Homo sapiens: one gene and its partners. The protein of the gene in region 2 purifies or fractionates together with the protein of the main gene of each other region. This does not show direct contact. Each region holds a gene or a part of one and is shown on either strand. Other genes may lie near its edges.

Region 1 (8,398 bases), on a different chromosome or scaffold from region 2:
AGTCTTGGGTCCGGTCTCGATCATGAGCTGAGTTAGGTAATGAGTCACTCTCTTGAGAACTACCACAAACACTAAATTTAGGAAGATCAAAGACAGTGGCCTCCTTATGGATTACCACTGATGCAAGAGCAGGTTCCAACAGAGAGTCTTTGAATTTTTTGCCAGCTTGCATCATCTTCTGTACACTACTCATTTTGAAAACATTATTTATTGACAATCCAGACTGCCACTTGTCACTATCTGTTTGTTGAGATCCTGCCAAAGTTAAAATGTTTTCTGCATAATTATTCAACCCAGATTCAACATTGTCAGAATCAATAATTGCAGAATATTTCTCTGCATATTTTTTGAACAGTTTGGTAGCACAGACCTGGGAAATCTCAGAGTTTGCCCATGCATACTGAATGCGTAATATCTGTGCACGGTATGCATCTGCCTTCGGTCCGGTACATATGCCAGATGTAATTGCGAAGTAATTCTTCTGCCATTCACTCAGGTGCACAGATCTAGAGCTGGAGGTCTGCATTTTAGAGGTTCTATAACAAACAATAAAAATGAAAATCAGTATGAAGGAAAACAAAGAAAATACTTTAAATGTAATTTTGAAACTTCTGCTAATCTGAAGGAAGGGACACTGGACTTTTTATTTATAATGTAGATTTATAAGGACAGGTTATAAGAGAAATATCTAGTTAACTATAGATTTCAAGTATTCAAGACATATCAATATGAAGTCTTCAAAATTAAGGACTTGATTAAATAATAATTTATATGAGTTAAATTGTTCTAGTTACATAATTTTATCTGTAGGGAAAGCATTCATAAGGTTTAAAATTAATTTTAAATTTTAAAAACAATGGAACTATAGATACATAAAGCAAAACAAAATAAACAAGAGGTTTAAGTCTGATCTATAAAACTAGGTGAATGAGCTTAAGTGAGCTTTTTACTATCACTGATGGTTTATTTTTATTTTATTATTATTTTTTTTTGAGACAGTGTCTCGCTCTGTCACCCAGGCTGCTGGAGGGCAGTGGCGCTCTCAGCTCACTGCAACCTCCACCTCGCGGGTTCAAGTGCTTCTCCTGCCCCAGCTTCCCAAGTAGCTGGGATTACAGGCACCTGCCACCACCCCTGGATAATTTTTATATTTTTAGTAGAGATGGGGTTTCGCCATGTTAGTCAGGCTGGTCTTGAACTCCTGACCTCAGGTAATCCACCCGCCTCAGCCTCCCAAAGTGCTGGGATTACAGGCGTGAGCTACCGCGCCCAGCTGGTTCTTCAGTTTTCTTATCTGCAAAGTGAGAGGAACCATTGGAAGAATCAAATCAAGCAATGACTATGAAAATAATCTGAAAACTATCATTATCCTTATCACACAAATGTACAAACCGAGGCTGAGAGACTTAAAGAACTTACTTGAGATCACACAGCCAGTTATGAATGGTATCAGAAATCGAACACAAGCAGTTTCACTCCAGGTACTGTGCACTTCTGCATGTACACAATGCTCCTTGATGCTGCTATCCTAGGTCACAGATTGAACAGCATGGATCACAAATTTAAACTATGGCATATTTAAATGGTTTTAATAACATTCATGAATAAGTTCATCACCCTAAACAGAATGCCCTAGAATATCTGTTTCCTAATTTCACATAATTATTAAAAAGTGAAACTGTTACAATAAATGAAATAAGAGAACAAGCTAGCCTACTAGGAAAATGCTTTTACTTTAGATTTCTTCTGTCAAGTTATTCGCATAAGCTTCCTCACATTGTTACCTTTAAACAGAACTATAGATGTATCATATTGCTAGATATATAGAATTTACTTACATATCCACAAGAAAAATTTATGAAAAATTTTTGTTTCCTAACAGTATTTCAATTAAATGAAAACCAAGAAACCCTACTTTAGGTTCAAGTATTTGAAATTTTGCCTTCCAAATTACTTGTAAGTACAACAGCCAGGTTTAATGCAGCTTTTATCTCCCATAATGCCTTACAAAGACATTTGTCACATTGTAAGTAGGTGTTCACAAATCTTTGTTTAAAAAACAATTAGAAAACTTAAGATCCAGAGCTTTAAAGACACTGTAATTTATTTAAAGCTGTAAAGCTAAATAAGCTAGAGTCAAAACTAGATCTGACCTCTTCTGTCAAGCAGTTCATCCTTTTTTTCACTATACCATTTTGATGTTAAACTCATTTATACAATACTAGAAATGAGAAACTGAAAGAAAGGTGACTCAGAAAACACTTGACACAAACTTTCACAATTAATATTATCATTCTCTTCCTCTCCATGGCTTCATTCCCCTTTATCATCTGTTATCCTGAAATTTCTACCATACCTCAGAGTTCTAGTCACTGTTCTCAGAATAAACCCCCTTCTCTTTTCCATCTTCACCTTTCCTTCAATATTCATCTTCCAAGTCTTACTTCTTCCTTTCAATTCAATCATTTAAATGGCAAATAAGGATAACCAAAAACTGGCCATCACCGATCAGTGACACAACCATTGTCTTGTTTACCATTTCCAAGTCAATTTAACCTTTATGGCCTTTCCTAGATCTAAAAAGTATGATTAATTAGCACTGTCATATGAACTGCATTTCAATCTTCTTTATTTTGCCAATGTTCTGATTATTTTAATAATGTCATTATCTGTCTTCCTAGACAGTTGGCTTCTGCAGGGAGGAATTGTTTTCCATTCCATTCACATTGTCTTAGTACCTAGAATACAGTGTCCTTTGGAATAATAGCTACTAAAATACTGACGGAGTGCCTACTCAGTACCAAGCACTGTGCAAGCCTTTCATAGGATTCTGTTCTTGATGCAAAACGGGAGTTAAGAGCACAGGGTCTGGAGCCAGGCTGCCTGCTTTCAAATCCTGGCTCTATCATCTGCCAGCAGTGACTGCAGGAAAATCTCTTAATGTCTTTCTGCCGGTTTTCACCTATAAAAGAAGCGCAGCAACATCACTGAGCTGACAAGGTATTTTAATTCTGCAAAGCACTAGACAGAGGACTCAGCACTTAGAAAATACTCTATAAAATACTGCTTCTTCTGATTCCTCACGATGACCCCTGAAAGGTATGAGCCCTTCTTTCTCATCACAGAGATTAAGAGCTTGCCTGGGTCACAGGGGAACTGACTGACCCCCGCTGTGGGCGCCCAGAGCCCCGCTGGGCCCAGTAAATGCCTGCGGTAAGCGGCCCCGCCCCCGGACAGGCTCTGCCAAAGGAAGCCGCCCGCAGACCTGGCCCCGAGCCTGCCGTCCACGCCGGGCCCCAGCTTCCTAATCCTGGATGAGTCTGGTTCTGGGCTAGCGGGTCAGCCACCCTCCCGCTAAGACAGAAGCAAAAGGGCACAGCCACTGCCTGGCTCCCGCCTCCCACGGCCTCCCGCGAAGTCACCGCCCCGCGACCCCCAGCATTCCAGAGGCACACGCCCGCCTCTCCCCTACGCCCCAACCCTGATGCTCCACAGGGGTCAGCAGCGCCCCTGCCCCGCCTCCCGTCACCGCATCCTACCTGCGGCTGGTGTGGGACGCTGGCAGCCTCCGAAAAGCGCGGGGACTGACGTGCGCCTGCGCGCTGCTGTCGCCCTCGGACTCGCGCCGTACGTGCGTGCGTGAGTGCGTGAGTGCGTGCGTGCGTGCGTTCGGCGCGCGGGGCGTGGGCGCGGCACCTGGGCCCGGGCACCGCCACCTAGGCCCTAGCTCCGACCAGTGGTGTTCTATAAACGCTTATTACATCATTGTGCATAGGCTTCATTTTTAAAAGTACTCCCAAATAAATACAAGGAGGCGATGGAAATTGAATGAAGATTCGAAGGATTCCCATAGAGCGTGGCTCACTTCCCCTCACCGGGACAGCGAGCGGCGGCTCACCTGGGAGAGCAAAGCGTGGCTCTCCTGCGCCCACCCGGGAGAGCAAACAATGGCTCACCTGCGCCCACCCGGGAGAGCAAGCGTGGCTCACCTGCGCCCACTCGGGAAAGCCAGCCGCCATCCTGTGCTGCAGGCAGGGAGCGGGCGGCGGGAGAGGAGCGGATCCACTTAGGTCAGCGGTTAAAACGTCGTTACAAGAGGCCACCCCGGCATCGCGGGGCCTGTGGCTGCGCCCCCTCTTGAATTCAGGCCTAGCACATCACCTCCGCCCCTCGCACCCTGCAGTCTGCGCTCCATACAGCACGTGAGCGGGTGCTCAGCAATGTTCCCTGGCTGAAAGAACCGCATAGAGTAGCATGCAAAAATGACATGCATGTTTAAGATAAAATAAGGGAGAGGACACCTGTTCTGACTGAGTCTGGCAACTCAGATCTCCCCGCAGCCAACATCTACATTCCTTTGGACAGCTGTCTGCTGTGTAGGGACACCTCCCTGGAACTTTGAAAAGCACCCCATCATTACCTTCCACTTTGTTCTGGAGCAAGGTTTCAAAAGAAGAGTGCCGTATTTTGATTAATTTAGTGAATTGGATTTTCAGACACAAGTAAGAGCATCCACTCAGTGGCCTCTGCAGTAAATAATGATATCAGATCACATAACAAGAAGACTGGAGGTTGGCGGGAAATCTGGACCTGGTGACTCAAAGAAGTCATGAAGGACCATCTCTCCATTCTGCCACCTTCTCGCCTGTGGATTTTCCTCCCCAGGCTTGTCACTTCATTGTCGAGAGATGCCCTCACAATCCAAGCCAGGCAGCCTCACATGACCAGATCTAAAACACAAAGAGGGAGCCAAACTGAGAAAGGACCTTTTCCCTCTGAACACTTCTCTCTTGGAAAAAGAAAATGTTTCCCAGAAAGCCTCATAGCCTTCCTCTTATATCTCCTTGACTAACTGGGACCCGGATCCCTGGATATCCTTTCCTGAGAAAGAGAGGGTCTGGGGCAGGGGATAGAGAAAATGACTAGCAACTAGCAGCACATGATGTTTAAACATAAGATTTAAAGAAATGCAAGGCACAAACAATTTGAAGACTTTTTTTAAGTTTTTAAAATCTTCACAAAATAAAAAGGAATTGGACAATGCACTTTAAAAACTAGAAGACGTTTCACTGAAAACAGCATCTCCTAATTCATTTCATGGCTTAGATAGTAATAGAAAATTATTTTATTCTAATTCCATACTTTATCAACTAATTTTAATTATTTTATAATTACCCAAAATATGTCATGTAGAATGAAAATAAAAGAAAATGAAAACAGTTATATCAAGGCCAAGTCAGTTGTATGTTTACTGGCTATTTAGAAATTTCTAAATACGTGTATATTTAGAAATGACTATATAGATACTATTTGGGTAATGTTAGGGATGGAAAGTTTATGTCCCCCCAAAATTTGTATGTTGAAATCCTAAGCCCAATGTGATGGTTTTAAGGGGCGGGGCCTTTGTGAGGTGATTAGGTCATGAGAGTGGAGACTTCATGGATGAGAATAGTAAGTATCCTTATAAAAGAGACTCCAGAGGCTGGGTGCAGTGTCTCATGCCTGTAATCCCAGCACTTTGGGAGGCCGAGGCAGGTGGATCGCCTGGGGTCAGGAGTTCGAGACCAGCCTGGCCAACATGGCAAAACCCTGTCTCTACTAAAAATACAAAAATTAGCCAGGTGTTGTGGTGGGCACCTGTAATCCCAGCTACTTAGGAGGCTGAGGCCTGAGAATTGCTTGAACCCAGGAGGTGGAGGTTGCAGTGAACTGAGATCGCGCCACTGCACTCCAGCCTGGGGGACGGAGTGAGACTGTCTCCAAAAAATAAAATACAATAAAAGAGACTCCAAAGAACTTTCTAGCCCTCTTGCCACCACCTAAGGATGCAAAGAGTTGACAGCAACCTGGAAGAGCCCTCACCAGAACTCGACCATTCTGGCACTCTGACTTCCAGCCTCCACTGTGAGAAATAAATTTCTATTGTTTATGAGCCACTCAGCATATGGTACTTTGTAGCCCTAGACAGGCTAAGACAGGTAATTAGCAATTTTAGGTGATTTTCATCATCAAAATTTTCATGATGGCATTTTGGAGAATTCACATAAACCACTCTGTTACCCTCCTAAAAGTATTGCTCAAATACTGAATTATATTTATGCTTGCCAAAGTTAATTTTTTTCCAACAAGTAACACTAGCCACTTCATTTTGTGCTTTTGATACAAAAGCATTTCCCAATCCAGCGGCTTTCATCTTCTGGCCTGGTTGGCAAAAGTGTAACTCACTTCTGCACCCTCTCTGAACCCTAGTCTCCTCCTCAAATGTAAAACAGTAATAAACCTTTCTTACCCAGGAAGCCATTATAAGGATTATAATCAACATAAGATATAATTCTTTAATTATCAAAGCAGTTGCTGGCATGTGGCAGGCATTCAACAGAAACCGTGTTGCTATGTTATTTTTATTGTTACCATTAATATTCCTATTGGGATTGAAACCCTTATGTCATATCAAAACTTTTCCATCTTTGACAAATGAGACATATTAGGATAGTATCTTAATAATATGTAAGAGTTTAGTGCTTGAGCTATTCAATTATTAAACTTTGCTTCCAAGACCACAGACTGGTGGTATATACTGTGTGCGTGTGTGTGTGTGTGTGTGTTTGTGTGTGTGTATGAGAAAGAATATGCTGTTCTTTTCTTCTTCTGGGTAGAAGTTGTTGAGCCTTCAAGGGAAGAGGTTTTCACCTACAGCAGACAGTGCCAGTTCTCTTGGTGTGAGGGATTCTGGGAGATGGCTGCCCATTTCCATATTCATGAATTTTATAAACATGGTCTCAGATAAATGCAAGTGTACACTTCGGTGAGCTCATTTGTTTTTGAGCAGAGGGGATAATACGGCCCTAAATAATGTGCTTCCCTGTCAGCCAGGAGAGTTACATTCTGGAGATGTGTGTGTCGGTGGGTGCGGGAGGCAGGTGGTGTTGAGGAGATAGGGAAGCCAACAGGACAAAGCTCAGAGGGAAAACAGCCCAATCTAAATCCAGTTCTTTCTCTGTGTGGATTCCCACTGACTTCCAAACCTCTCAGCTCCCTGACTCAGTGGTAAGGAAGAAAAAAGTACCAGGATTGAGGGGATGGTGTTCTAGCCCTCCAGCAGAGGAGTAAGATGTGTGAGCCCAGGGTGAAGCAAGTGCACAATTTTAGTAAAAGATTTTCATTGGCCATACTGAATGAATCATAAAGGGATGTGAAGAGGCTACCTCTGGCATCATTGTCATAAACACAGCTGGTGAGGGGGGAGGTGGTGTTCTCCTGGTGTCAAAAGACAAAATTATTTACAGATCAAATTGGCTTTTATTCATGATTCATGAATCCAGTAGCCTCCATTCTATAAAATAGAATTAGAGTTCCCACTGGGGAATGGCAGAACAGTGGTTTTGTAAGGTGGGAACAAGGAAACAGTATTATTTTAAAGGTTGATTGGTTAGTGTCAGCTTAATTCAGACTACTTTTCTCGTCATGGTTAAAGCAAATGGGACTTCCTTATTACTCTGACTCAGGCAGACTGAACTCTTTCTGATGGGTTGCTGTGACTCTTGTTTTCAAGAAAAACTGGTCTATTTGGGGACCACCAGCTTTCTTAAAGTTTCAGCTTGGTTAAATGGCACTTAGCATGAGTGACTCCACTTTAGTTTGGTCTGTTGGGACCTAGTGCAGGAGCTCACTCTAAAACAATGCCCTCCCGTAATTTTTCTATAGCACCTGAAACGGGGTAGAGCAGAGATTGAAGGAAACATTTGCTTGGGTCGTCATTTTCCTCAAGGACTGCGCTACCAATTGGAGTCAACACTTCTAGGTGCCTCCAGTTTGGTACAGTATGTAAGGGGTTGAATTGCATCCCCCAAACAGATATGTTGAAGCCCTAACCCCTGGCACCTGTGAATGTGGCCTTATTTGGAAAGAGGGTTGTTACAGCCATAATCCAGTTAAGATGAGGTCCTTCTGGATTAGGGTGGGCCCTCATCTGATTGATTGGTGTCCTTATAAAGAAAAGGAAAAGAGTCACAGAGGGAAGAAGGCCATGTGAAGATGGGGGCAGAGATTGGAGTGATGCTGTCACAAGCCAAGGAATGTCTGGGTTACCAACAGCTGGACTTTGTAGACAGCATGGCCCTGCCAACACCTCGATTTCAGTTTCTGCCTCCAGAACTGTGAGAGAACACGTTTATGTTATTTGAAGACACTGAGACTGCCGTCCATTGTTCCAGCAGCCACAGGAAACGAATGCCCTGCATTCTTACAGCACTGCGGCAGGGGTGGAGTGATTAAGAGCAGGGGCTATGGAGTCAGCTTTCCAGGGTTCAAGTCCTAGCTCCACTGCTCAGGAGCCACTACTGAGAATTGTTCAGAATCAACCCAGCTGAGGTCTGAAGATCATTTAGACCGGAGCCTC
Region 2 (8,288 bases):
TCAGAAAATCAATTAAAGACTTACTTCAGTTTTTCTATATACATTTTTAATGATTAGAAACAATTGATTATTAAGTCAGAATTGCAGTTGCTGGGGTCTGAAAGAGCCAGACAATAAAAATAAAATCCATAATGAGCTGTTATAAGTAGGATGTTTATCTTATTTACTAAAGAGTTTTTGAGAATTCTATTCTGATGGTATGTGACCAATGGCATGCATATACAAGACCTCAAGTCCAAGTTTGGGATAACTGTAGCCAACACCTAAAGGAAAGGTAATTATGTTTTAGTTTACATGGGGCTCATACCCATGTCACTTGTCCCATCAGCACTATGCCCTCTGCAAGTAAGACTATGACGACAATGGTCGGCAGAACAAAAGGTTGACAATTGTGAAACCACAAGGTTACAGAAGAAATTGAGGCCTTGAAAGGCTCCAAGACTTGCCTTGGGTCACAGAGCACACTGTCGGTTTGAGATTCTCAGTGTTGCACATGGTCATAAATGTTTGAATGTACAACCCCCCATTTTTTAGTCAATTATGTACAAGTAAAATAAGTTTTAATGTAACAAATTATTTAAATAATGTGTGCCCTGTGAGGATTTATCCCACTTAATGGCAACTGAACTCTACCACATTACATTAACATATAACATAGCAAATATTTGAGTGTTTACTATGTGTCAGGCACTCTTCTAATCATCAGATACGTGTTAACTCATTTAAGACAGCCACCCTGGGAGCAGATGTGATCATCATCCTCGCAGAGAGGAATGCACAGAGAGGTCACAGAAAGCAGCGTACCAGGAGTCAGACCTAGGCAGTCTGGTGTCTAAGGCTATACTCTAAATTATTGAGTTAAATGATCTAATAAAATGTATATTAAGCATATACAATAAAACTTGGAAGTAAACGTGTTGACTGCTAAGCTACACAAACGTTATTTAGTACTATTATCTGTATTTCCTTTCATTTCCTTATCACTAACCAGTATTTTTTTAAACCACCACAAAATCAAGTTCTCTGTTAGAATTTGCCTTCATTTTTAAATATTCAGTAAGCATTATGGCCCAATTATGTAATATGTCTAAAGAAATTTTGCTGGCAGGGTGCGGTGGCTCACGCCTGTAATCCCAGCACTTAAAGAGGCAGAGGAGGGCAGATCACTTGAGCTCAGGGGTTCAAGACCGGCCTGGGCAACATGGCAAAACCCTATCTCTACAAAAAATACAAAAATTAGCCAGGTGTGGTGGCACATGCCTGTAGTCCCAGCTATTCAGGAGGCTGAGGTGGGAGGATCACTTGAGCCCAGGAGGTTGAGGCTGCAGTGAGCCCTGATCATGCCACGGCAATCCAGCATGGGCAGCAGAGTGAGACCGTTTTGGTTTTTTTTTAAATTGCGCACTCTTTTTTCACTGGGTCCATTTCATCTAGCAATGAAATCTACATTAAGGGGAAAAATCACTATTCCTGTACGATAACCCGCTTAAGTTCAACAAGAAAACTTTATTATTTAAGAATTTCTTTATAAAACTGAACTATATGTTCATGCATTATAATTCCAGGAAACTAAAGAACATAAAATTACCTTTAAAAGCTAATGTGGAGAATTTCAGGGGAAAATCAGTATTAACTTATAGTTTTATTATTGATATAAAAGAAAACTTCAAATACTGTACAGTAAGGTGTGCTGTAGAACACTATAATACACTATTACCAATTATTCATTACTCAAATGTAATATATACAGTAATCACGAAATCGGAAAATAATGGGCAACAGCCAGTGCCTTAAGGGTGAAATAACATCTATACTATTTTATTGAGCAGTTAAAGCACTTGCTATTTTTCTAAATATTTACACTATTACTGCTTATGTTTACAAATTCTAAGTATCATTTCCCTCCAAAAAGTAGACTTTCCAGTTCTTGGCACTAATTCTTAGTCAAATAAGCCTGAAAATACTGGCAACCTTTTCAGTCTTGCATTGCTCTACCACAGGCATAATAAGGGCTCAGGACGAGATTTCTGCATTCTAAAGAAAAGTAGGCAATACCTTAAAAATTTAAAAACTAAGTAATTGATACTCACAAGCAGGTAACATCAACTAAAACTTTTTTCTTTACTAATTTTTCCTTTTCTTTTACAAGAGAATAATCATTAATATTATACTACAAAAGCATGTAGTCTCCATAATTAAAAAATTAAATGTCAGATATACAAGTAATGGCATTTTCTCCAATAATTCATAATTTTTACAATTTCTGCTATTTTGGAACAAACATTAAAATTCCCACGATTTAAGTATCATTAAATATGAACTGAAACACTTAGCATCTCAAAGAATTATCAAGAATGGTAGAACTTGTAATTAACTCTATAACTTACATGGGTGATATAGTTCCCCTTTGTTGTTTTATTTCTTAAATATACATTCTACTAAGGAATATTTTCATGTGAACAGCTCTGGTTTGAAAAATTAATTTATACTGTGAAGAGCCTTAAGGTTGTACAATTTTGTTAAATTATATGATAACCTTGAATGGTAGGATGCATTTACTCAACTTAGAATATGGCGCTATTATTATTATAAATGGTGGTTTTTAATTCACATTAAGATAGGTGGAATTTAATCCAATTTTGCAAAGGCTTTGTGTTTATAAAAATCTTAAGATGGAAACCTTGCTTTGAGAACCATAAAACTCAAAATCTGTGTAGTATTTTAAGTATGAACCAATTGAAATTACTGTTGAAAAATGAAGACAAAACTGTATTGATATTCTGAAATAAACACTTTATGCTGCCACTATATTGACCAGTTGAAGTGTAATTAATGACAGAAGTAAATTTTTTACCTAAAGGTTAGTTATTAGTGAGGTCTACATATTTAGAGAGTTATTCAGTAGCAGATAGTATTGGTAGGTAACTACATAAAACAATACTTTTATACATTTTGCATTTAGTAGCTAACATGTGATGTCAGTACAATTCTCAAAAACCTGTCATTAGTAGTATGAGTTGCTAGCAAGTGATCTTCCCTGAGGTAAGAGACCATATGCAAAAGTCAGTGTTCATCTCCAATGAAGATACTTAAAAATAATGGCAATAAGGACCTGTGGCCAGGAATTACAGATGCATTTCAGATTGATATCTTAATTGCAAGCAGTAGGCTTGACTGTAAAAACCAAACTAAAAATCACTGGAAGACACAGAGCCAGTATCAGTCAATAGCATTTGCTAACTTTCTCAGGCCTCTACCCTAACATTTTCCAATAAAAATATCTGAAACAGAGTGAAGCGGGAGAAATGGGTTTGCTCTTTAACTAGTTCCTGAGTAACCATTCTCATGGAGTTAATTATATTCTATCTTAATATATGGCAGCATCTTGTTTTCTTCAATTTACAACAATTTCTCATTACCAGTATTCTAGATACATACTATCTTCAACACTACCTGGACTTTAGGTCATCAACTTAAATTTGGTATGATTAACTATAAAATGGATTACTGAAGAAAAAATTTACAACTTTATTTCAATGTTTAGTGAAGCACTGCAAACAGAATTGCAGGAATGCATTTTAGTTATAATGTTACCTCTAGGGCTAAAAAAAAAAAAAAAAACAAATTTACCTGAGATGTCTAGCTTGCACGCCAAGATGTGGCTATATCACAAATGGCAGTACTAGAAAAATAACCATGCTATAGTCATGTATTTGGTTATGAAAACCATATGGAAAGACAAAGGATGATATTTAAAAACTTAAAAGAAACCCTATTCTAAAACTTCTTTGTGAGGATACCTGGCCTACTTCTCAAAAACCATCAATTCACCCCAACCAAATTTTCAGCTGATTTGAAAGAATTTCAAGAAATTTGATCACTTATCAGAATTGAGCCTTTTATTCATTTATCAAGGGAGAACCCAAACTATTACTGTACTATTCATACCTAACTGGCTTTTAAATAGCATTGCTGTAGCTAGAGAAATTAATAAAGTTGTCAGAGATTAAGTCCATCTTCTAACATTCACATACGCATTCCAATTTGCACTAAATGTAAGAATAGGGAGATAAAGTTTGTTTCTGGTATTTTATGTTAATGCTATGAGATATCTGTCAGTTATCAATGAAGAAAATATTTGTTAAAGAAGATTATATCATTTTACATGAAAGCAGTGCATTTTTTGCTTAAACAGTTTTCCTGTATTTAAATCCCCCCAAAAAAAGTTCCAGTGGCTGAAAAAGCCAAAAATAATTATAGTGGTTAGTGAAGTGATATTTGTAATTCGTAGTTTAATACACAGAAGCCACCTTTACTAAGTAGTAAATAGTATTTGGTAGCTACAGCTCTTATTTTATGCAAAAATAGTGTACAATATAAAAGTTTAAAAATTTCCTGCTGTTTTGATAGGGAGAAAATTTAGGATGAAGATAAAATATAAAGACAAACGTGATAATGTGATAAAAACTAACCCAAATATATATTTTGCTCAGATACACCTGTAAAATGTCTAGATTCTCCATTCTTTCCTTATTTAAAATAGAGTAGTTTGTTTAAGAAGTGGATTCAGTTAGAGATACTTTCACAGAAAGATGACCAAAATCTGCCTTATCTGGAAACACAAGTTAAAGTACTGTCTATATCCCTTATGAATCAACAGGCAGAGATTTTTAAACATCTGATAAAATACTTTCTGACATACATTTTCTTAGAATTACAAACACAGTTCTGCATCTGTTACATGTGCAAACAGAGACAGCCAGGCTTTGAATGCTCTAGGTAAGAGATTGTATTAACATATATTTTGTCTTTCAGCCATTCAAATTCAACTTAATTTCAGTGAACAGAGAAGAATATGGGTTGAAATGTACACTTCAGGATACAGATTTGCAGAATAAAATAAAATAGTGCAATACCAATCTCAGGATAAACACTCTTCTGTTGTTTTTAAGGAATAAGCATGAAAGCTGCTTCTCAAGGAAACTGGCACTGAAGATTTGATGAATACACTAAGCAAATACCCAGCTGATCAGGGTGTGATGCAGTAAAATTTGCATCTAAACCCAAGTGAAGCCAACAAATAAACTCTTATGGATTCTGAAAAAAAAAAAAAAATTTTGGCTCAAAGGGGCATAAATACACTTAGCATATACAGGCTTAAATACCACTGATCAAAATTGTAGAACAATTAACTCATTCATAAAGATAAACTCTTATTTATAAATTCTCTACTGCTACCATTATTTCTTTTTCTACCACACTTTGCAATCAACTTTTCTGCAAGATTAAAAAAAAAAAAATCAGGTTGTTCTTGACCAAGCCAGGAATCAAAAATAATGGTAACATATTAATAGAGCACACACAATTGGCTGTGGCTCAGACAGCAACACAACTGAATCACATTGACCTCATCAATCTAGAAGAAATTTTTCCCCAATCTTGCACAAATCAGCAAAATGTTATATCGTTACATTCTATTCTCAAGATATTTTCGCCAAGAAATCTCTATGAATGTGTTTACGTTCATAGAAACATTTGCATTCCACTGTCTAATAAATAATTGTATGAATTTTAAGATACAATTTAGTTCAGATAAAATTCAAGTTTACATAAACCTTTTGACACTAGTATATGAGATGGTTACCTTGATGACATCAACATTAGCACAATCTCATTTCCCCTCCATTTGTAGGCTTTTCAGAAATCAAACGTATTTAAGTAAGAGAATTTTCATGTTGGAAACATTAAGACTTTCATGGAATTAAAATTACAAAGAACTTCCAATGAACCACATATATGGAAGAAAGTCATCTCAGCAGATCTAACAGCTAATTTATAGAAATTCAGAGCCAGCCTGGGCAGCAGTATATTAAAAGCTATGGCCAATCACACACTTGCTATCATGCACTGAATAACAAGATATAATCTTTGAATTATATACGTACAAGATTTTTAATGACTAATCAAGTTACGTGGCCCAGCCAACAAATATTACATATTCACAATAAACATTCTGCCTTTATTAGCCTCTAATTAAATCAAGAGTGATCCATTGGCTCAGTTGTGTTAGTCATCTCAGCATCTTGACTATCCATCTCTTCAAGCTCCTCCACGGAATTTCCCCTTTGTGCTTTTGACCTTGTGGCAAAGGCTGCTCCCAGTGCATCTGCTACACAGCCATCAGTTGTTTCTGTATTCAAATTTTCAGTACCACCAGTTAAAGGAAAAGATTCAGGCAAACCAGTCTGAAGACTCCCAGACTTTGCAGAAGAACTCACAACTTCTGTTTTCCTTTGAGGAAGATCAGATGGTGACTGCTCTGTACTTTGATCCCGAAGGTGCCTGTCCATTGAAGCCTGAATAGAAGAAACCATTTCCTGCAATTTTTTTCGCTGGGCCTCAACCAAATCAGGATCAAGCTGCCTGCCGTCTCTCATTGTTACTACTCCAGGAGCTATTCGAATAAGCTCACTATTACTAGAAGAAGCTGTGAATACAGAAGGCTCTGTTTTAGTGGAACTATTACTAAAGTCTGTCCCTGTATTATGCTTTCTTACAACTGAAGTTTCCCTAGCTCTTGGATCAAGGTGTGGGTTACCAGATGCAGTTCCTAAAGAATGCCCTTTTCCCTGAAAGGCAGTTACGTTATGAAGTTGCTCAGATTTCTTTTTCACTACTCCACCACTACCTAGTTTTAATAGCCCATGTGAGGGACTTGATTCCCTACTTCTTGTAGTAGCCTCTGCTCGAACCTGACTTACAGCCTCTTTAACTAAATCTTCAACATCAGGACCAATGGGGAAATGTCCTGCAGCATCCACACACAATTCCAGTCTATCTTCAGAAGCATTATAGACAAAGGTTTTGCCAGGCAGATGTGGAAAAGTACAATGCTTGCCATCAGCCATACCTAAAAAGGGGAAAAGATATTTAACATATTAAAATCTTAAGGTATTAATAAAAGTGTAGTCAAGACAATTATAGTTAAAATAATGAATTTTAAATAACAATTTACAGATAACAGCTTTCAAAACAAAATTCATTCAGATTTATTGTATTACAAAAAAGAACCACCGCCATAGACCCTAAAGTAGTTCTCCCCAGAGAATCTTTTTTAAAAAAATTTTTTTGCTATCTTAACTAACAGCAAAGTTAAGAATGGGGCTTGAGGTCACACAGTGGCTCACACATGTAAACCCAGCACTTTGGGAGGCTAAGGCAGGTGGATCACCTGAGGTCAGGAGCTCGAGACCAGCCTGGCCAACGTGGTGAAACCCCAACTCTACTGAGAATACACAAAATTAGCTGGGCATGGCAGCAGGCGCCTGTAATCCCAGCTACTTGGGAGGCTGAGGCAGGAGACTCACTTGAACCTGGGAGGCAGAGGTTGCAGTGAGCTGAGATTGCGGCACTGCACTCCAGCCTGGACAATAAGAGTGAAACTCTATCTCAAAAAAAAAAAAAAAAAAAAGAATGGAGCTTGAGGCCAGGTGCAGTGGCTCATGCATATAATCCCAGCACTTTGGGAGGCAGACAGGTGGATCACTTGAGGTCAGGAGTTCAAGACCAGCCTGGCCAAAATGTTGAAACCCAGTCTCTACTAAAAATACAAAAATTAGCTGGGCATGGTGGTGTGTGAGCCTGTAGTCCCAGCTACTGGGGAGGCTGAGGCAGGAGAATTGCTTGAACCCAGGAGGCGGAGGTTGCAGTGAGCCAAGATGGCGCCGCTATACCACTATACTCCAACCTGGGTGACAAAGCAAGACTCCATCTCAAAAAAAAAAAAAAAAAAAAAAAAGGTTTTGCAGGTGTTTCCAGATTGCTACTGAGATGCTTTTCCTTGGCTATCCCTAGAAAGAATCATAGTTCCACACATGTTCATCACAGTATTACTTACAATGAAACAATGGAAAAAAATCTAAATTTTCAACAAGAAATAAGTAAATTATTTCCTATCTACCTGTTGGAAGTATATGCAGTTATTAAAATTTAGATAAATAGGCCCGGCACAGTGGCTCACACCTGTAATCCCAGCACTTTGGGAGGCCAAGGTGGGCAGATCATGAGGTCAGGAGTTTGAGACCAGCCTGGCCAACAGAGTGAAACCCCATCTCTACTAAAAATACAAAAATTAGCCAGGCATGGTGGTGCGCGCCTGTAGTCCCAGCTACTCAGGAGGCTGAGGCAGGGAGAATTGCTTGAACCCAGGAGGTGGAGGTTGTGCTGAGACAAGATTGCACCACTGCACTCCAGCCTGGGCAACAGAACAAGACTCCATCTAAAAAAAA
Region 3 (7,235 bases), on a different chromosome or scaffold from region 2:
TGAAAGGATGCACATCAAAATGTTACTAGTAGTTTTTAATTTCTAATTTTTATTTTTTACTTTTTTCTTTTTCTTTTTTTCAAGACAGAATCTTGCTCTGTCGCTCAGGCTGGAGTGCAGCCACATGATCTCGGCTCACTGCAACCTCTGCCTCCTGGGTTCAAGCGATTCTCCTGCCTCAGCCTCCCGAGTAGCTGGGATTACAGGCGCGTGCCACCATGCCTGGCTAATTTTTGTATTTTTAATAGAGACGGGGTTTTACCATGTTGGCTAGGCTGGTCTGGAATTCCTGATCTTGTGATCAGCCCACCTCGGCCTCACAAACTGCTGGGATTACAGGCATGAGCCACTGCGCCTGGCTTTTTTTTTTTTCACTTTTTAAACTATTCACAGGTGTACTACCACTACTGATCAGCATTCGTTCTTGCTCCTTTTCCAATGGGCAACCTGGTAGTCCCCCGTTCCAGTGAGATCACCAAATTGATGCCAAACTTAGTGCAGACACCTGACCGACTGGCAGAGCACACTATACCCCAGAACTTCTGGGCTCAAGCGAGCCTCCTGCCTCAGTCTCCTGAATAGCTGGGACAACAGGCATGCACCACTAGGACCAGTAGTGGTTATATGTGAAAGGCAGAATAATAGGTGATTTAAGGATCATTTTAGCATATCTGCATATTATAGTTTTCTATAATGAATATAAATTATCTGTGCAAAAAATACATTAAAACAAATGACAAAGCCAAATACTGGTCTACTGAATAAGCCATTTCCATCTGAAGGTTTAGTGCAATGAGCAATTTTTTCATAAAATGGTTTGTACTTAGGAAAAGAACAAAGGAGTAAACCCTACTAAAGAGTCTTCATGCTAGTTCAGCTGATAACACAAAGAATAAATGAAAAATTAAACATATCATTGAGTTAGTATTCAAAAATAGCACATCTTTACATTTCTGAGTATTAAATGAAAGTAATGTTGGTTAAAGCAAAAGCACCTAATAAATGTTTGTTGATTATCAAACTGAATGACTTTGCCAAATAAAATGACAAGTGTATTTGCATATAACTATTTTATAACAAGGGTAAATGATTTCACAGATCCTTTTAATGAACAGTATTTCATTAACAGTTCTTCAACTGTCAGCAAAAGATTGCTCTCAAAATACTTTAAGGCACTGAAATAGATGCACACATATTATCAACATGCTGAAATGTCATGAAAAATTATACCGAGAGAAGTATATAAAATAAGATTATTTTTTAAACTGAAAAAAATGCATAGTAATTAACCAATAAACCACAATCTGTAACATTAGATATGTATTTCTTTTTTTCTTTTTTTTGAGACGGAGTCTCGCTCTGTTGCCCAGGCTGGAGTGCAGTGGCACGATCTCGGCTCACTGCAACCTCTGCCTCCGGGGCTCAGGTGATTCTCCTGCCTCAGCCTCCTGAGTAGCTGGGACTACAGGCGCACACCACTACACCCAGCTAATTTTTGTATTTTTAGTATAGACGGGGTTTCCCCATGTTGACCAGGATGGTCTCGATCTCTTGACCTCGTGATCCATCCACCTCAGCCTCCCAAAGTGCTGGGATTGCAGGCATGAGTCACCGTGCCTGGCCTAGATATGTATTTCTATATATCAGCCCTAACAATTATTTTCAAGAAACTGAAGACAGTTTTGAAACAATTGCTTAGGTCAAATTGTATGCCCCATCTAAGGTGATTATTTTCAAGTTTTCCTTCCCTTAGCAAATTGTTTGTTTTCCAAAGTCAACCTCTTTTGATAATTATACACATTTAACTAACAATTTTACAACTTTTAAATTCTCAGTTAAAAAGCTTTACTGGATGATTCTCATTGTAGAAAATCTTTGAGGATATTATTCGCATTAATGAACGTTTCACAGTTAGAATAATGAAGGTTATTGATGACAACAGGTCTTTCTCCATAGGACCCTTACTGGGATGTATTCTACAGGTACATACAAAAGAACCTCCCATGTATCTTCTGGTTAAATAATTATAAACCGGAAAATCTACCAAAGAGGCTTTTCTATAGGTACACAGGAAACATTCTCAATGAGAGACCCCTACATGGAGAATCATATGTTGACTATAATTATGCAAATAAAAATGCTACATGATAGGCCTATATGAAACATTTTCTTAGATTCCTGAACATGTATTAACTGTCATCCTGTTATTTTCTATATCAGAAAGATAAGCTCATTGATTTTATCATTGCCTCTTTTTTTTTTTTTTTTTTTTGGTAAGAACATTATTTTTGTTTCACTACAGAGAGGCTCTAACACTGCTGTGTAAACATTACCAACAATAATTATTTATTTTCTATTATGTACCTGTTCATTTCTAAGAGTAATGGACAAAAGAAAAGGCTCTCCTTTGTCCTCCCTCTCTTCCTAATTAAAAGAGCCTTCTGCCCCATGGAAGGCTGGGAGCTAGGAAAAGCAGCATTCTCACAATAGACTGCAATCAGAAGATAGATTTTATGTCAGGTCATCTAGTTACATAGATATTTCCCTGTTGTTATTCCTGAGTCCTTAGTAAAAACCTTAATTAAATGTTCCAGCCTTGTCTCGGCTGTGCTATAGGAGGTAAAGCACAAGTTTATGTCATGATTGGTTCAGTGACAAAAGGGAACAGACTCTTTCCAAGAGCAAACTGGGTGACAAGGATAAACTTAGTGGTCTAGCAGATGTGTTTCAGTGGAGTCTCCCACCGTCCATGGTGAAAGCATGCAGGTTTTATTTTCTCAGGGTAAAAGCTTAGGACAGAATTTCCTGAAGAAAGGTACTTCCACCACATACTTAAGAATCACGTGAGATTAAAAATGCAGAGATCTGAGACCCATCACAGATACAGTGAATCAGAATCTTTGTGGTAGGTGGCAGGAATGGCATTTTTGAAAAGCTGCCCCAAATGATTCTGAAACTAAGGCTTCAGAATCATTGTGAACCATCACTTTATATAGATTGGTTCTCAAAGTGTGCCTGAGGGATCCCTGGAGATTCCCAAGACCCATTCAGGGCACTGTGAAGTCAAAACGTTTTTCATAATCATACTAAGGCATTATTTGCTTCTTTTCATTCTTTCACCAGTATACAGAGGTGTTTTCCAGAGTCTACATGATATGTGACTGCACAACAGACTGAATGTAGAAGACATGAGAACCCATCTATCTTCTTTATGACAGAAAGTAATTCCCCCCAAAAAACCGGCCACTTTTCTCACTAAATCGTTTCATGTTTTATAAGTTATTATTGGCTGGGCACAGTGGCTCACGCCTATAATCCTAGCACTTTGGGAGGCCAAGGCGGGCGGATCACCTGAGGTTACGAGTTAGAGGCCAGCCAGGCCAACATGGCGAAACCCCGTCTCTACTAAAAATACAAAAATTAGCCAGGCGTGGTAGTGGGCGCCTATAATCCCAGCTACTCGGGAGGCTGTGGCAGAAGAATCGCTTGAACCCGGGGGGACAAGTTGCAGTGAGCCAAGATCGCGCCATTGCACTCTAGTCTGGGGGAAAGAGCAAAACTCTATCTCAAAAAAAAAAAAGTTATTATTATTACGGCAGGGTCTTACTCTGTTGCCTAAGCTAGAGTGCAGTGGCGCAATCTCGGCTCACTGCAACCTCTGCCTCCTGAGTTCAAGCAATTCTCCTCCCTCAGCCTCCCTAGTAGCTGAGATTACAGGCATGTGCCACCACACCAGGCTAATTTTTGTATTTTTAGTACAGACATGGTTTCACCACATTGACCAGGCTGGTCTCGAACTCCTGACCTCAGGTGATCTGCCCGCTTTAGTGTCCCAAAGTGCTGGGATTACAGGTGTGAGCTACTGCACTAATTTTTGTAATTTTTATAGATAGAGTTTTGCCTTGTTGCCCAGGCTGGTCTCAAACTCCTGGGCTCAAGTGATCCACCTGTCTTGGCCTCCCAAAGTGCTAGGATTACAGGCGTGAGACACCATGTCCAGCCAGAAGTTATTTTTAAATGAATAATTTTTTTTTTTTGAGAAAGAGTCTCGCTCCGTCACCAGGCTGGAGTGCAGGGGCGCAATCTCGGCTCACTGAAACCTCCACCTCCCGGGTTCAAGCCATTCTCCTCCCTCAGCCTCCCACGTAGCTGGGACTACAGGCGCATGCCACCACACCCAGCTAATTTTTTTTGTATTTTTAGTAGAGACGGGGATTCACCATGTTGGACAGGATGGTCTCAATCACTTGACCTTGTGATCCGCCTGCCTCAGCCTCCCAAAGTGCTGGGATTACAGGCGTAAGCCACCGTGCCTGGCCCATAAATAAATATTTTAAAAATTTAATATTTAATATAATAATATATATAGCTCACATAAACAAATGGTCTTGAGATAAAAATGTTTGAGAGTTGCTGTTTCATAGCAGGCATCTCGCACCCTATGAACATTACTGCTGCTATGGACCACTTAGTTCCTTGGCACACTCAATGCATGCTTCATTTTAAATCTGATTCAATAGATCATTTGCAAAAAAAAATGTTAAACTTATTTTCAGGTATGGGGATTTAATCTGACAGTGAAAAATTGAGGTCTAACTGGATTTAGTTAAAGTCTGAGATATAAAGCCTGTTTTTCTTCGTGATATCAAAATGAAATAATCTTTAAATGTATTCACAAGTTGACTCTGATGTATGAAACAGAAAACCAGCTGGGCACGGTGGTTCACACTTGTAATCCCAGCACTTCAGGAGGCCTAGGCAGGCAGATCCCCTGAGGTCGGGAGTTCGAGACCAGCCTGACCAACATGGTGAAATCCCGTGTCTACTAAAAATGCAAAATTAGCCAAGCATGGTGGCGCATGCCTGTAATCCCAGCTACTTGGGAGGCTGAGCAGGAGAATCTCTTGAACCCGGGAGGTGGAGGTTGTGGTGAGCTGAGATTGCGCCACTGCACTCCAGCCTGGGCAACAAGAGCGAAACTCCATCTCAAACAAACGAAAAAGAAACAGAAAACCATACTTTATATGATGCATTTAAAAAATACTAGTAATGTGACACACACCGGCATTATATTCTAAGTGAGTGGTGGCAAATGAATGGCTAATCCCAAATGTTAGCCAAAAACAAATCCATAATTTTTGAAAGAAAATAAAATGGAAAGGGAATAGGCTTTTTAGAAAGATAATTTTCTTTTATTACATTTTTATAAAGTGTAGAAATGTGAGTAGGCAGATTAATCTTGATACTATACTGAGCTACACAATTTTATTCTTTTATTTTTTAAATTAAAAAAATATATAGACAGGGGTCTCACTCTGTTGATCATTCTGGTTTTAAACTCCTGGCTTCAAGTGATCCTCCCATCTCAGCCTCCCAAAGTGCTGGGATTACAGGCATGAGCCATTGCACCCGGCCACAATTATTTATATTTATTTTACTTTATTTTATTTATTTTTGAGAGGGGGTCTTGCTCTGTCGCCAAGCTGGAGTACAGTTGCTCAATCTCAGCTCACTGCAACCTACACTTGCCAGGTTCAAGAGATTCTCCTGCCTCAGCCTCCCGAGTAGCTGGGACTACAGTTGCGCACCGCCACGCCCAGCTAATTTTTGTATTTTTACTAGAGATGGGGTTTCACCATGTTTGCCAGGATGGTCTCAATCTGTTGACCTCGTGATCTGCCTGTCTCGGCCTCCCGAAGTTCTGGGATTACAGGCATGAACCACTGTACCCGGTCGTATTAGCTATTTAAAAACTCAGACAGCTAACATTTAAATAAATCCCTGCTGTCTGGGAATGATGTCTGAATGAATATTGTGAATACATATGCTAATTTATACCATATTAAGATTCTAAACAATACAGCTATTTAATATATCTTGATAACTGGTATTTGAAAATAAGTCTATTTTTCTGGGTAGTCTTTTGGAGAAAGTGCACTGAATATAGTTTCCAGTCATATGCTACTTTCTTAACTTGTACTTATCTAAACATCTTCTCATCAGGAGAGAGTTCAATAGTACTCGAACCAAAAGTCTAGTGAGTCTGACTTCTCCAATCCCCAATTTTGGTTTGCATGTCCACTTACAACCATCATTTCTCTGCAAATTTTCCACTTAGTCTATCAAAAATCAGTGCTCTGAAAGTTCTCTAAAAGATGCAGTTTTTTGGAGTCTCTGAATGATGACAGCATTCTGTAAATCTGCTTCTTCCAGTGTGAGTGTCTCATCTAGCAACCTGAGGACAGGAAGAGCTGTTGCCAGGGAAAACGGAGGACTTCTTTGAGATCCTTGGTATTTTTCAATGAAGTCTTTGATATGGCTTACTCTGTAAAACAGCAAAAACTATTAATATAATTTTAGGAAAATTTGAATTACCTAATTTATAGTAACAACAACTGGTAAAAGTATCTGGATATGTTATTATTAGAGATAGCGTCTTGCTTTGTCACCCAGGATGCAGTGCAGTGGTGCCATCATAATAACTCCTGGGCTCAACTGATCCTCCTGCCTCAGCCTCCCAAAGTGCTGAGATCACAGGCATGAGCCACAACACCCAGACTCTGGATATGTTAATATATAGAATAACTGAATTTATGATATAACTGATTATTTGGGCTATCTTTTAAAGTTTGACTCCCAGAAATTTGATGACAATACTACTACTACTGTTAATTATCTTAGGTAAGATAATTAGTACTATGAATTACTACTGTTAATTATCTTAGGTAAGACAAAGGAATTATGGCTATGTTTTACAGAGGCTGTCACAATTGTATCATGATCGTCATGTAGCCATGGATTATAGAATGCATCCTCATTTCACAGATGCTAAAATGTGAAAAAATGTGCAACTCAGAATTAATGAAATATGCCTATCACTAAAGAAAGAATTCTCTCATTCAATCAATTCACTAAAATTCACTACGTGCCACTTTATTAAACCTGTAAGGGCTACCAAAAAAGTCTAAGACCCAGTCCTGTGTATTCATTTGGGTACCAAAAATTGGATAACTAAAGGTTAAAGCTTATGTCAAAGAACATAAATATAAAAAGCAAGAAAACAAAGGTTAAAAGAACTGGGGAAAGATTGCTGGAGGTGGAAGGATTGGAGTGTGGACTTAAAAGACAGGTCCAGCTGCTCGGGAGGCTGAGGAGGGAGACGAAGGTTGATCGCGGGAGACGAAGGTTGCAGTGAGCTGAGATCATGTCACCGTACCCTAACCTGGATGAAAGGG
Region 4 (8,288 bases), on a different chromosome or scaffold from region 2:
GCTTGAACCCCGGAGGCGGAGGTTGCAGTCAGCCAAGATCGCGCCACTGCACTCCAGCCTGGGCAACAGAGCGAGACTCCATCTCAAGAAAAAAAAAAAAGAAAAGAATGAAAATAGAACAGAAAAATACTTAAGAGTGGGGAAAACCCCAAAATTTAATGAAAAACATCAAATAGCAACTCCAGGAAGTTCAGCAAACTCTCTCAAGTTAAGATACAAAGAACACCACTGCAAGGCACACCAGAGTCACCCTACTGAAAGCCAGAGGTCAACGAAGACGAGAAGACCAAGAAGACGGTGGAACGACAGCTTCAAATGCTCAACAGGACCAGGCACCGCGGCTCCCGCCTGGAATCCCAGCATCCAGGAGACAGAGTGGGGAGGATCACTTGAGGAAATCAAGACCAGCCTAGACAACATGGTGAAACCCCATCTCTACCAAAAAATTAAGAAATTAGCTAGGAAGCTCACGTGGGAGGATCGTTTGAGCCCGGGAAGTCAAGGCTGCAGTGAGCTGTGACTTTGCCAGTGCACTCCAACCTAGGCAAAAATAATAATAATAATAATTTTAAAATGGACTGGGTGAGGGTGGATCATACCTGTAATCCCAGCACTTTGGGAGGCTGAGGCGGGCGGATCACCTGAGATCAGGAATTCGAGACCAGACTGGCCAACATAGTGAAACCTCGTCTCTACTAAAAATACAAAAATCAGCTGGGCATGGTGGTGCGAGCCTGTAGTCCCAGCTACTCGGGAGGCTGAGGCAACAGAATCACTTGAACCCGGGAGGCGGAGGTTGCAGTGAGGCAAGATTGTGCCGCTGCACTCCAGCTTGGGCGACACAATGAGACTTCGTCTCAAAAAAAAAAAAGAAAAAGGGCCAGGTGTGGTGGCTCACTCTTGTAATCCCGGCACATTGGGAGGCCGAGGCAGGCGGATCATGAGGTCAGGAGATCGAGACCATCCTCACTAACACAGTGAAACCCCATCTCTACTAAAAACACAAAAAACATTAGCCGGGCATGGTGGCGGGTGCCTGTAGTCCCAGCTACTCGGGAGGCTGAGGCAGGGAAATGGCATGAACCTGGGAGGCAGAGCTTGCAGTGAGCCGAGATCGCGCCACTGCATTCCAGCCTGGGCAACAGAAAGACTCCGTCTCAAAAAAAAAAAAAAATTGATGCATGGTGGGGAACAAAAATGAACTGTCAACTCAGAAATCTGTTTTGAGGCCAGGTGCAGTGGCTCACGCCTGTAACCCCAGCACTTTGGGAGGCCAAGGCGGGTGGATCACCTGAGGTCAGGAGTTCGAGACCAGCCTGACCAACATGGTGAAACTCCATCTCTATTAAAAAGACAAACTTAGCCGGACTTGGTGGCGTATGCCTGTAATCCCAGCTACTCGGAAGGCTGAGGCAGAATTGCTTGAACCCGGGAGGCTGAGGCAGGAGAATTGCTTGAACACAGGAGGCAGAGGCTGCAATGAGCCAAGATCATGCCATCACACTCCAGCCTGGGCAACAAGAGCGAAACTCTGTCTCAAAAAACAAAAACAAAAATTAGCCAGGTATTGTGGTGCACACCTGTAATCCCAGCTACTTGGGAGGCTGAGGCAGGAGAACTGCTGGAACCCAGGAGGCGGAGGTTGCACTGAGCCGAGATCACGCCACCACATTCCAGCCTGGGCGACAGAAAAAGACTCCATCTCAAAAAAAGAAATTTGTATTGAATGAAAATATCCTTGGGAGGCCAAGGCGGGCAGATCACGAGGTCAGGAGATGAAGACCATCCTGGCTAACATGGTGAAATCCCGTCTCTACTAAAAATACAAAAAATTAGCCAGGCATGGTGGTGGGCGCCTGTAGTCCAGCTACTCGGGAGGCTGAGGCAGGAGAGTGGCGTGAACCCGGGAGGCGGAGCTTGCAGTGAGCCAAGATCATGCCACTGCATTCCAGCCTTGGAGACAGAGCGAGACTCCCTCTCATAAAAAAAAAAAGAAAAAAAAAAGAAAAAGAAAATATATCCTTCATGGCTGGGCACGGTGGCTCACACTGAAGCGGGTGGATCACGAGGTCGGGAGTTCAAGACCAGCATGGTGAAGATAGTGAAACCCCGTCTCTACTAAAAATACAAAAAATTAGTCAGGTATGGTGGCGGGTGCCTGTAATCCTAGCTACTCGAGAGGCTTAGGCAGAGGATTGCTTGAACCCAGGAGGCAGAGGTTGCAGTGAGCCGAGATCATGCCACTGCACTCCAGCCTGGGCAACAGAGTGAGATGCCATCTCAAAAAAAAAGAAAATAACCCTCATATAAACACAGGGCAAAACGAAAACATTTTCAGGTCAAAAAAACCCAAAGGTCTGTGACCAACAAACCTACCTACAACAAAGGCTAATGGATGTTTTTCAGTCTGAAGAGAAACAACACCAGACAGAAATAGTCTGGGGGAATCCATGGGAAAAGTAAATAAGGAAGAAACTGTGAAGATAAGCTAAGAAGTACATAATATGCAACTATCACAGTAAATGAAATATTTTGTGATTGGTTAAAAAAAGAAAAACTGTCATGGGAATCCTGGACACAATGCAGGTCAGGAGACCAGGGAGGAGCCAGGGATGATTCTTTGAGTCAACTGTAGTCATATCTACAATTCATACTTTTTTTTTTTTTTGAGACAGTCTCACTCTGTCGCCCAGGCTGGAGTGCAGTGGCGCGATCTCAGCTCACTGCAAGCTCCGCCTCCTGGGTTCACATCATTCTCCTGCCTCAGCCTCACCAGCAGCTGGGACTACAGGTGCCCGCCACCACACCCGGCTAATTTTTTGTATTTTTACTAGAGATAGGGTTTCACCATGTTAGCCAGGATGGTCTCAATCTCCTGACCTTGTGATCCGCCCGCCTCGGCCTCCCAAAGTGCTGCGATTACAGGCGTCAGCCACTGCGCCTGGCCACTCTTATGAAATACTTTTTTTTTTTTTTTTTTGAGATGGAGTCTCACTCTGTTGCCCAGGTTGGAGTGCAGTGGCACCACCTCGACTCACTGTAAACTCTGCCTTCTGAGTCAAGCAATTCTCTTGCCTCAGCTTCCCAAGTAGCTGGGATTACAGGCACCTACCACCACGCCCGACTAATTTTTGTATTTTTAGTAGACGGGGTTTCACCATCTTGGCCAGGCTGGTCTTGAACTCCTCACTTCGTGATCCACCCGCCTTGGTCTCCCGAAGTGCTGGGATTACAGGTGTGAGCCACCACGCCCAGCCGTGAAATATTTTTACACTTACCTTTGGGCTCTTGGTCCTATAATTTTGAGCAGTGATCAGCTGTGACAAACATCTCATCCTATAGCAATCCAACCCAACTGTGATAGAGAAAGGCAATGCAAGAGGCAATTTGGGAATAGGGAAAATAAGAAAACGAGGAAAAGAGAAAAGGTATCGATGGCAGTAAGAGTAGAGGATGAAAAATATCCTGAGGGTCAATACCCAGGCCACAGATACCTTTTTCAAAAATGTTGCTGCTGTTTCTCTCTTTGTTGCTGTGATCCGCTTCACTCCATCCGGGGACTGGACACGAATTATCTGTTGCAAACAAAACATGATGGTTACTGCACAGCCTAGTGAGGTCCTGATCTAATACTACGGCTTCCATCTGTGGTCTTTTAGCATCTGGGTCACTGAAAATTAAAGCCAAACCTCACTCTTCACCTTTCAATACCCAGCTCAATCCTTCTAGAATATGATGCCGAGGGGTGAGATTCATCAACATATGGGGAGATATTTTAAGAGTACTGTCCTCTCAACTCTTAGTTTCACTCAGAAAACAACTTTAATTCCTAATCACTATTTATAGAGTATATGTAAAACACTTTTTGTCTCTTCAGACTTAAAACAGAGAAAAACCCACCATGAACCATGAATGAACTGTGTTCTTTAAAAAAGATGTTACTTTGGGGAAAAAAAAAAAAAAAAGATGTTACTTTGTTCCAGGATCTATATACAAACATTAGACAGTCTTCAAGAGTCCTACAATTTAAAAGAATCACAGGAAATTTTCTAATTGTTACTTTTTTTTTGCTTTTTTGAGACAGGGTCTTGCTGTCACCCAGGCTGGAGTGCAGTGGCAAAATCACAGCTTACTGCAGCCTTGACATCCAAGGTTCAAGTGATCCTCTGACCTCAGCCTCCCGAGAGCTGGAACCACAGGCTTGCACCACCACACCAGGTTAATTTTTTTTTTTGTAGTGACGGAGTGTCATATTTCCCAGGCTGATCTCGAGCTCCGGGGCTCAAGTGATCCTGCCACTGTGCTGGGATTACAGGTGTGAGCCACAACGCCAGCTATTACTTACTTTCCCTAAAAAACGTTTAAAAATGGCCAGACACAGTGGCTCACGTCTGTAATTGTAGCACTTTGGGAGGCCAAGGCGGTGGATCACTTGAGCTCAGAAGTTCAAGACCAGTGGGCAACATGGGGAAACCCCATCTCTACTAAAAATACAAGTTAGCCAGGCATGGTGGCGTACGCCTATGGTCTCAGCTACTTGGGGAGCTGAGGCACGAGGATCACTTAAACCAGGGAGGTCGAGGCTACAGTGAGCCAAGATGGTGCCACTGCACTCCAGCATTGGTGACAAAGTGAGACCCTGTCTCAAAAAAAGAGATTAGGCTGGGCACAGTGGCTCCTGCCTGTAATCCCAGCACTTTGGGAGGCCAATGCGGGCAGATCACCTGAGGTCAGGAGTTCGAGACCAGCCTGGCCAACATGGTGAAACCCCGTCTCTACTAAAAATACAAAAATTAGCTGGGCGTGGTGGCGGGCACCTGTAATCCCAGCTACCCGGGAGGCTGAGGCAGGAGAATCGCTTGAACCCAGGAGGCAGAGGTTGCAGTGAGCCAAGATCGTGCCATTGCGTGACGAAGAGCAAGACTTCGTCTCAAAAAAAAAGTAAAAATTTAAACTTAAAAAAGAAATTAAAATTAAAAGCAATAAAGGTCTTTAATGGTAAAATTTAGTAGGGTTTTGAAAAAATATTTTCAGCTGGGCACAGTGGCTCACACCTATAATCTGTGCACTTCAGGAGACCAAGGCAGGAAGATCTCTTTAGCCTAGGAATTCGAGATCAGCCTGGCCAACACAGCGAGACCCCATCCTAATTTAATAACGTGTGTGTGCATATATGCATATTAAAGTGTACATATATATATATATATTTTTTTTTTTTTTTTTTTTTTTTTTCCCCCACGGCAAGCCTAAAAAGGTTGGCAGATCTGGAAGACTACTGGACAAAGGGCATTACTTTCTAAGACAACTTGATGTTTATGCTGATGAAAGCCATCGTGAAGGTGAGTTATCATGCCTGGCCAACAGCACAGGCCCCTGCTTTAGACAAGGAGGATGACATGGCATGCTCTGCAGCAAACAAAGACCTGCTCCAACCATCCGCGGGACGGGAAGGAAGGCAGACAGGAACATGCGCATAAGTGTCCTAGCTTCTCCTCTCAGCAAAGACTGATGGTGCATTCTATAGCTTCTTTCTCTCTCATTTCCTGCATTACCATCTCTTGTATTTAGCTCATTTTTTTTTTCCCCGAGATGAAGTTTCAATCTTGTGGCCCAGGCTGGAGTACAATGGCGCAATCTTGGCTCACTGCAACCTCTGCCTCTTGAGTTCAAGTGATTCTCCTGCCTCAGCCTCCTGAGTAGCTGGAATCACAGGCGCCCACCACCATACCCAGCTAATTTTCTTTTTTTTGAGACAGTCTTTTTCCGTTGCCCAGGGTGGAGTGCAGTGGCGCAATCTCGGCTCACTGCAACCTCCACTCACTGCAACCTCCGCCTCCCAGGTTCAGGCGATTCTCCTGTCTCAGCCTCCTGAGCAGCTGGGATTACAGGCGTGCACCACCAAGCCCAGCTAATTTTTGTATTTTTAGTAGAGACGGGGTTTCAACATGTTAGTCAATCTGGTCTTAAACGCCTACCTCAGGTGATCCACCTGCCTCAGCCTCCTAAAGTGCTGGGATTATAGGCATGAGCCACCAACCCTGGCCTAGCTGATTTTTTATAGTGAAACATTTCAATTCCCTTATTTCCTTTTTTATTTCTTTTTTTTTTTTCAGCTCTTGTTGCCCAGGCTGGAGTGCAATGGCGTGATCTCGGCTCACTGCAACCTCTGCCTCCCCGGTTCAAGTGATTCTCCTGTCTCAGCCTCCTGAGTATCTGGGATTACAAGTGCCTGCCACCACGCCTGGCTAATTTTTAGTATTTTTAGTAGAGATGGGATTTCACCACGTTGGCCAGGCTGGTCTCGAACTCCTGACCTCAAGTTATCCACCCACCTGGGCCTCCCAAAGTGCTGGGATTACAGGTGTGCACCACCACACCCGGCCTCCCTTATTTCCTTTTTCATAAATTCTATAACTATTTTCTGTGAGGTTACCACGAGTGTTACATTAAACATCCTCTTCAACCATTATGCAGATGAAAACTGTCACAAGCCATTGTCTAAAAAAGATTTCCACTGATACAGGACAAAACACCATAAAGGCTCAGTCTACTGGGATTTGTCCGCTTTTAGTAAAGTAACTAAGCCTAATCTAGATTTTCCTAAAATAGGATAACCCTGTCCTGCATTTTCCCATAACTTTCACTTGGCAGAAAAGGCTCCACCCAATATGTTCTCAACTTTTAAGTCAGGAGATTGAGACCATCCTGGCTAACACGGTGAAACCCCATCTCTACTAAAAATACAAAACATTAGCCAGGCGTGGTGGAGGGCGCCTGTAGTCCCAGCTACTTGGGAGGCTGAGGTAGGAGAATGGCGTGAACCCAGGAGGCAGAGCTTGTGGTGAGCAGATCGCGCCACTGCACTCCAGCCTGGGTGACAGAGCAAGACTCCGTCTCAAAAAAAAAAAAAAAAAGAAAAGAAATACAATTCTTTATACTTCTAACGTCTAGTATACTTCATTCTAGATTCAATACCCCAGAAAAACGTTTTCACAATATATAGCATTAGGTAAATACTTCCACTTATTTGTTTCTAAAATCTGTCTGCCAACACTTAGCTATCTTAAAAAGGAAAGCTCTGTTCTAATGAAGGGGAACATGTGAATGTTCCTTCAAACGATGACTCTGGAACAAGAGCATGTTACCGCCATTCTTTACAGAGCTAAATGGTTCAGGCTGCAGAATTCTAAGGTGAAGAAGTCATCCTACTTGATCCTCTACCACAGAAGATGGGAGTCCAGGTTTCCAAGGCCAACTCCAGTATTTAACAAGAGACAAACATAATTTGTACGATGGAAAGTTCTGGCCTAGCCTCTGACACAGACTACAAAATGAAATACACAGGAAGAGACAGACCTGACAACATGAACACACAGCCTCTTGGTAACTTAAGTTTCCCTATTTATAAGAAAATAAGACTAGAACGCTTCTTGGGGAAGTTGAAGAACTGGTGAGATACAGTTAAATCCACAGAAACTCTTTTCTCCCCCCAAGACAGAGTCTTGCTCTGTCACCCAGAGTGGGAGTGCGATGGCGCGACCTCGGTTCACTGCAACCTTTGCCTGCCGAGTTCAAGCAATTCTCTTGCCTCAAGCCTCCCAAGTAGCTGGGATTATAGGCGCCCGCCACCGCGCCCAGCTAATTTTTTTTTTTTTTTTAAGAGTCTCACTCTGTCACCCAGGCTGGAGTGCAGTGGTGCGATCTCGGCTCACTGCAATCTCCGCCTCCCGGGTTCTAACTTTTCTGCCTCAGCCTCCTGAGTGGCTGGGACTACAGGTGCACGCCACCACGCCCGGTTAATTTTTTGTATTTTTTTTTTTTAGTAGACGTGGGGTTTCACCGTGTTGCCCAGGCTGGTCTCAAACTCCTGAGCTCAGGCAATCCACCTGCCTCGGCCTTCCAAAGTGCTAGGATTACAAACGTGAGCCACCACGCCCTAATTTTTGTATTTTTAGTAAAGACGTGGTTTCACCATGTCGGCCAGGCTGGTCTCAACTCCTGACCTCATTATTCACCTGCCTCGGCCTCTCAAAGTGCTGGGATTACAGGTGTGAGCCACCATGCCCAGCCCAGAAACTTTTCAAAAGATCTCTTTCTTAAATTCAAAATAACTTTTTAAATCAATTTCAAAAGAAGAGTGTTTTAATTCCTCACAATCTGAGACATTCAACGAGATCCAATGCTGTCAATGAGAGCCTAGCCTTATACACTAGTGGGAAAAAAAAAATGGCCTTGTCTGAAACACTTTTCACTTGTCAATGGTTATTTTAACTCAGTTAAAAGTACAA

Evidence for each region.
Region 1: the proteins of VCPIP1 (region 2) and FIGNL1 purify together in Homo sapiens (affinity purification with mass spectrometry; 2 studies listed by BioGRID and IntAct, with this or other methods). This does not show direct contact.
Region 3: the proteins of VCPIP1 (region 2) and UBXN2A purify together in Homo sapiens (affinity purification with mass spectrometry; 2 studies listed by BioGRID and IntAct, with this or other methods). This does not show direct contact.
Region 4: the proteins of VCPIP1 (region 2) and NPLOC4 purify together in Homo sapiens (affinity purification with mass spectrometry; 2 studies listed by BioGRID and IntAct, with this or other methods). This does not show direct contact.

Annotation. Positions count from the first base shown.
Region 1 is NC_000007.14:50,446,762-50,455,159, forward strand, and holds the start of FIGNL1 (fidgetin-like protein 1), read right to left. Parts: upstream 3,590-8,398; 5' UTR 3,540-3,589; intron 2,963-3,539; 5' UTR 2,357-2,962; exon of another isoform or gene 1,529-2,356; 5' UTR 1,420-1,528; intron 1,295-1,419; exon of another isoform or gene 1,207-1,294; intron 537-1,206; 5' UTR 527-536; coding exon 1-526. UniProt on the Homo sapiens protein: Involved in DNA double-strand break (DBS) repair via homologous recombination (HR). Recruited at DSB sites independently of BRCA2, RAD51 and RAD51 paralogs in a H2AX-dependent manner. May regulate osteoblast proliferation and differentiation.
Region 2 is NC_000008.11:66,628,463-66,636,750, forward strand, and holds the end of VCPIP1 (deubiquitinating protein VCPIP1), read right to left. Parts: intron 6,911-8,288; coding exon 6,039-6,910; 3' UTR 25-6,038; downstream 1-24. UniProt on the Homo sapiens protein: Deubiquitinating enzyme involved in DNA repair and reassembly of the Golgi apparatus and the endoplasmic reticulum following mitosis. Necessary for VCP-mediated reassembly of Golgi stacks after mitosis.
Region 3 is NC_000002.12:23,998,762-24,005,996, reverse strand, and holds the end of UBXN2A (UBX domain-containing protein 2A), read right to left. Parts: intron 6,343-7,235; coding exon of another isoform or gene 6,326-6,342; coding exon 6,130-6,325; 3' UTR 1,088-6,129; downstream 1-1,087. UniProt on the Homo sapiens protein: Acts to repress the ubiquitination and subsequent endoplasmic reticulum-associated degradation of CHRNA3 by the STUB1-VCP-UBXN2A complex in cortical neurons.
Region 4 is NC_000017.11:81,626,231-81,634,518, forward strand, and holds part of NPLOC4 (nuclear protein localization protein 4 homolog), read right to left. Parts: intron 3,576-8,288; coding exon 3,495-3,575; intron 1-3,494. UniProt on the Homo sapiens protein: The ternary complex containing UFD1, VCP and NPLOC4 binds ubiquitinated proteins and is necessary for the export of misfolded proteins from the ER to the cytoplasm, where they are degraded by the proteasome.